Regions from separate parts of the Homo sapiens genome. Here region 1 is linked to region 2. A link means that fine-mapping ties the variant in region 2 to the expression of a gene that starts in the linked region. Tissue or cell type: whole blood. Region 2 holds a variant in brackets; the other region holds the start of a gene. All regions are shown on one strand. Distances are between the middles of the regions.

The links. PIP is the estimated chance that this variant, and not a neighbour inherited with it, causes the effect.
Region 1: it holds the start of CTSH, and the variant in region 2 is fine-mapped to the expression of CTSH in whole blood (INTERVAL, PIP above 0.99).

Annotation. Positions count from the first base shown.
Region 1 is chr15:78,943,952-78,946,705 of GRCh38, forward strand. CTSH (cathepsin H) reads right to left here and starts at 1,095. Exons shown (of 12, transcript NM_004390.5): 1 at 940-1,095. The coding sequence starts at 1,030. RefSeq lists silencers at 216-510, 948-1,297 and enhancers at 288-826, 827-1,365.
Region 2 is chr15:78,995,703-78,998,456 of GRCh38, forward strand. RASGRF1 (Ras protein specific guanine nucleotide releasing factor 1) reads right to left here. Exons shown (of 27, transcript NM_001145648.3): 19 at 2,394-2,506; 20 at 38-98. Among named protein-coding and RNA genes, the nearest start is that of CTSH, 52 kb to the left of the region's middle. RefSeq lists an enhancer at 747-1,520. The variant C/T (reference allele first, on the strand shown) is at 1,393.

The DNA of each region.
Region 1 (2,754 bases), 52 kb before region 2:
TAGGTGGGAAGGAATGAGGCAACCCTCTGGCCCAGATTCAGCCTCAGTGATCTCTGTCCCATCCCCTGAGCCTCTAGCTGGGGGAAAGCCCTGTCCCGTTCCTCCAGAGCTCAGGGCACCCCCCCTCCCTAGGTTCTTGGCTCCTTGGGTTGTTTCTTGGCTACTTTTCTCGGTGAAGGGGGCAGGTGGTCTTTAAGTTCAGAGCCTGTGGGCTGAGGCTGGGACCAGGGACAGTAGGAAAGGAGGGAGGCAGTAGGGAAGAGCAGGCTCCTTGCCTTCAGCCAGGGGAGGTGCCTGAGCCCGGGCAGTAGACAGGATGCAAGGGCAGCACGAAGCTGGACCAGTCGCAGCCAATCTGGCCAACAAGAGGAGTCCTGGGGCTCCACCTGACGCCATGGGCCCTGGGGTGCTGTTAAAAGCGCTGTTGGTCTGAGTGCTTTCCCTGGTGCCGTTGCACAGGGATTCACTGTTCCAAACAGCCCGTCCAACCTACTCTACAGATGGGACTCCCAAGACACTACGGGGATCCCCTGTGTGCCAAGTCCCGGGGGAAGCTGCTAGAGAAGGCTGGGACGTCCTTGCTCACCTCTGGCAGGGACAGATCAGAGTCCTCTGTGTGACACTCTGTGTCCCCAGTTGAGGAAGGCGGAAGGAGCTGCGGGCTCCTTTGGTATTCTAGGCTGGAGAGCCACCTGGCTAGGTGGGACCCTGGACACTCAGCCCATCTGCTCCTCTGGTCCTACAAGCCGCCCACCCTCCGAGAACCCCCGCCTATAATGCAGTTTACCCCTCCCCGTGCCAGCACGCAGAGTTCCTGGCCTCTCACCGGGGAAAGCTCTGCCCCGTTCCTCCGGAGCCCAGTGCGCCCCTGGCCAAGTTCTCCCAGCGTCCACTCTAGGGCCTGCTAGCACCCTCTCGGGCGGCGCGCCCTCTGCGTACCTAAGGAGTTCACGCACAGTTCGGCGGCACCGCAGACGGGGACTCCCAGGAGCCAGGCCCCGGCGCAGAGCAGCGGCAGCGTGGCCCACATCGCAGCGCTGGCGGCTTGGCTCTTGCGCTCAGGGTCCGCGGAGGTGGCGGCCCAGAGCGTCAACTGGGAGCGCGGGGGGGGAGCGGCACGAGCGTGGAGGAGCGGCGGGAGCGCGAAGGGGCGGAGCGAGCGCGGGGCGGAGCGAGCGCGGGGCGGGGTGGGCGGTACTCCCCCGAGGCCGGGCTCGCGGGAGGGGGCGGCGCCGACTAACTCGCCAGCTCTAGTTCACCTGTCGGCCGGCCGCGTCGCTCCCTTATCTCCTCTGGGAGGAAGGGCTTATCTGGGTATCAGGCCTGGCTGAGTCCTGGATCTGCCTGGACTGGCTGGCACCGCGCGGGGAGGTCTCAGCCTGGCCTCTCCCTCTCCCAGCCTGTCGCCATCCCCACGTCCCCCATCTCCCTGCGTGTCCCCACCTCGCACCCCCCCATCTCCCTGCCTATCCCCAACTCGCACCCCTCATGTCCCTTCCTGTCCCCACCTCACACCATGTCCCTGCCTGTCTTCACCTTGCACCCTCCATCTCCCTGCCTGTCCCCACCTCGCTCCCCCTATGTCCCTGCCTGTCTCCACCTCACACCCCCATCTCCCTGAATGTGCCCACCTCCCACCCCCTATGTCCCTGCCTGTCCCCACCTCCCACCCCCATGTCCCTGCCTGTCCCCACCTCGCACCCCCATGTCCCTGCTTATCCCCACCTCGCACCCCCCCATCTCCCTGCCTGTCCCCAACTCACACCCCCCATCTCCCTGCCTGTCCCCACCTCAGACTCCCCATGTCCCTGCCTGTCTCCACCTCACACCCTTATGTCCCTGCCTGTCCCCACCTCGCACGCCCCACGTCCCTGCCTGTCCCCACCTCGCACTCCCCATGTCCCTGCTTGTCCCCACCTCGCACCCCCCATCTCCCTGCCTGTCCCCACCTCACACCCCCCATGTCCCTGCCTGTCTCCACCTCACAGCCTTATGTCCCTTCCTGTCCCCACCTCGCACCCCCCATCTCCCTGCCTATCCCCACCATACCCCTATGTCCCTGCCTGTCCCCACCTCACACCCCCATGTCTCTGCCTGTCCCCACCTCACACCCCCATATCCCTGCCAGTCCCCACCTCACATCCCCCCATCTTCCTGCATTTCCCCACCTCACACCCCTATGTCCCTGCCTGTCCCCGCCTTGCACCTCCCATCTTCCTGCCTGTCCCCACCTCACACCCCCTCATGTCCCTGCGTGTCTCCACCTTGCACCCCCATCTCCCTGCCTGTCCCCACCTCATACCCCCCATGTCCCTGTGTGTCTCCACCTCAGACTTTCCCCCACACTCCCCACGTCTCCCTGCCCTGGTTAACCACATTTCCCTGGCTTCCCTTTTGCTTGGAGTGGACTTACAACTGAAGAAGCTAGACGACCTCCTTGTGAATTGTTTTGCCCCCTCAACAGACATTTTAGTCTTTCTGCTGAGGAAGCTACATTAAGAGCTGTAGGGCCATTCTCTGTAGTTTGCAAAGCTAAAGAAGATGGTATGTAAGGGTCTGGGTGTGAGACAGACAGAAGAACGTGCGTTCCAGGCTGAGGAGGCCGGTGCTGTCACTGCTTTGGGTGAGGAGAGGGTGATTCAGACCAGCCTGTGCCGTAGCCTCAAATGCCCAGTGATGCCCTGTTCTTCACTTACATCATCACCTTGCAAAGTGGCATGTTGTTGACCCCCCATTTTACAGATGAGGAAACTG
Region 2 (2,754 bases):
GAAAGCCTTGGAAAGCAAGAGGGCAGGCCCAGCTCACCATCTGCGTGATCTCCTCCAGCGTGATCTGGTTGTCACCTGGGTCCTCCTGGGTCAGAGTCCTAGGCAGGAGCGAGAAGGCACGGTGAGCCCCACTTCACGTTGCAGCAGCCCCTCCCCAGCTCGGACAGCCCCACACGGCCTCTGCTCTTACGCCCCTCTGTCCTCGTCATCCCCATTGCCAGGAGCACCCTTTCCCCTTCCTCCTTCACTCTTCTTCCTGATGGTCCTGGCGCTCCTGGCTGTGGGAGGTCCCCTTCTGGGGCCCTCTCAGCCCCTGGGCTTCCTGCATCTGGCTGGGTGGGAATGGCCTTTCTGCCACCTCAGGCAGGGAGCCCTTGAGGGAGGGACGGTGTCTGATTCAGCCCCATAGCTCTGGTGCCAGCACAGGACTGGACATTCAGCAGGCGCTCCTGCGAGCACATGGATGACAGGATGCATGACAGGAAGGAAGCACAGGGAGTGGGGAGGCAGCAGCATGGCAGCCACAGGCCCAGAGGAGGGACTGCAAGGATGGAATTGGGAGAGCAGAGGAGAGTGGTACACACGGTGGGGAATGAGGGTAGAGCCTCAAAGTCAGGCCAAAGTGCCGCACGCTCACAGTGATGGGCTCAGAGCCACAGCTGGTGAGTACCAACGGAGGCTGCGGACACTGGAGAGCCAGGCCTGGGCTGCGTGGGGACAGCCAGGGGTCTGCAGGCCTGCCGGGGCTGCGGGGAGTGGCTCTCTGGATCAGCCTGGCAGAAGGCATTGTCGTGTATATCTTACAGCTGAGGAAACGGCCCCTCAGGGAACTGCCTCACCTGGGGTCCCGCAGCTGGAGCATGGTGGGCCCACGCTCCAAACCAGGGCTGCCAACTCCAGAGCCTGCTCTTTCATCACACCCAGGGAACAGGCTCCCCTCCGAGGGTGGCTTTGATCAATATGCTCGGTGGGGGGCTCCACACACTCCTAAGGCCTCCTGGGAGGACCACGAGTGGCGGCTGTGTGTGTGTGTGCGTGTGTGTGTGTGTGGGCATGTGTGCACACACTCTGGCCTCTGTACTGAAGATGTGGAGGCCTGAAAGAGATTTTAGGACTGTGAGCCTGAGGGAAGAATGGGCCCCAGCATGGGGCCTCCACGGCCTGGCTGGGGAGGATGTCTGGGCACTCTGGTCACAGGCAGGACTTGGGGGAAAGTCTGGGGAGGCTGGGGCCAGGCAAGAGGTGAGGAGGAAAGGCCAGGGCCCAAGCCCTCACACCTGGGCTGGGCTGGGAGCAGACAGGCTGAGTCGGTAGGTGCCCGCCACCCACTGAACAGCCTGTAAAAGTGACACCCGTGATCTCATCCCAGCCTTGAAGCGGGTATTGTTCACC[C/T]ATTTTATGGATGAGGCTCAGAGCGGGGACTTGCCCAGGTCACATGAGTCACTGGCTGAGCATCTCAGACATCGGGCTGCCTGACCCTGACCTCCACCAGGAGAGGACAAGCATGGGTTTGGGGATAAACAACTTAACTGAATTCAATTCAACAGACACTCAAGCACCTACAAATCAGGCCTCGCCAGCACTGTTTAATAGATCTCTGCAGTGATGGCAGCATCCTACACCCTGTACTGTCCAATGCAGGGACTGCTAGCCACATGTCGGGGGTGAAGCTGAGGCTGCTGGGCTCATGTCACTGAGGAACTGAACTTTAAATTTTATTTAATTTTCATTAAGATTTAAATAGCCAAGGCCGGGCATAGTGGCTCATGCCTGTAATCCCAGCACTTTGGGAGGCCGAGGTGGGCAGATCGCCTGAGGTCAGGAGACTGAGACCAGCCTGGCCAACATGGTGAAACCCCGTCTCTACTAAAAATACAAAAAAAATTAGCTGGGCGTGGTGGCAGGTGCCTATAATCCCAGCTACTGGGGAGGCTGAGGCAGGAGAATCTCTTGAACCTGGGAGGTGGAGGTTACAGTGAGCCAAGATCACATCACTGCATTCTAGCCTGGGTGACAAGAGCGAGACTTCGCCTCAAAAAAAAAAAAAAAAAAGATTTAAATAGCCTTATGTAGCTAGTGCCTACCATATTGGATGGCACAGGCTAGACAGGGGTTAGCAGCTGTGGACACACATGGAGAAGTGTGCTGGGTTCTTGCTTTGAAGAGATCAAGGTCTGGCGCAGGGTGGGGAGAGAGGAAAGAAGGACAAATAGACTACCCAGCCCTGAGCCTGCCCCCAAGAGCTCACCTCTACCCCAGCACTCCTACTTGGGGCTGTCCTTGACAAGGGCGCTCTTCACCTCCCGGGCCTCTGACCAGCCCACATGGAGGCAGAAGGCAGGGCTCCTGTCCCAGCAGGCAGTTCTGAGCCAGGAACCAGGTACTGCCTTTACCTGATGATGTTGGCTGCAGCCTTCCGCTCCTGGGTCAGGAGCTCCGGGTCGTGCATGACTTCTTCCAGGAAGCCGATCACCTTGCATTTGAGCTCATCGTTGGTCTCAAAGTCCTGCCGGGAAGGTGTGATGGGTGGCTCTGGTTACTGTTTTTGAGCTGCTCTGCAGTGGTCTGGGCCCAGGCCAGAGGAAGGAGCTCCAGTTTCTATTCTGCCCAGGGCAGGCTGACCTGCCTCATTTCCTTTCTGTTGGCTTCCTGGCAGGGCATGAGAGGCTCTCCAGGCCTAGAGAATCTTAGATAAAGGCACTGGAACCAGATCAAAGCCCATCTTTCAGCTGGCTGCACCCCTGGGCCAGGGAG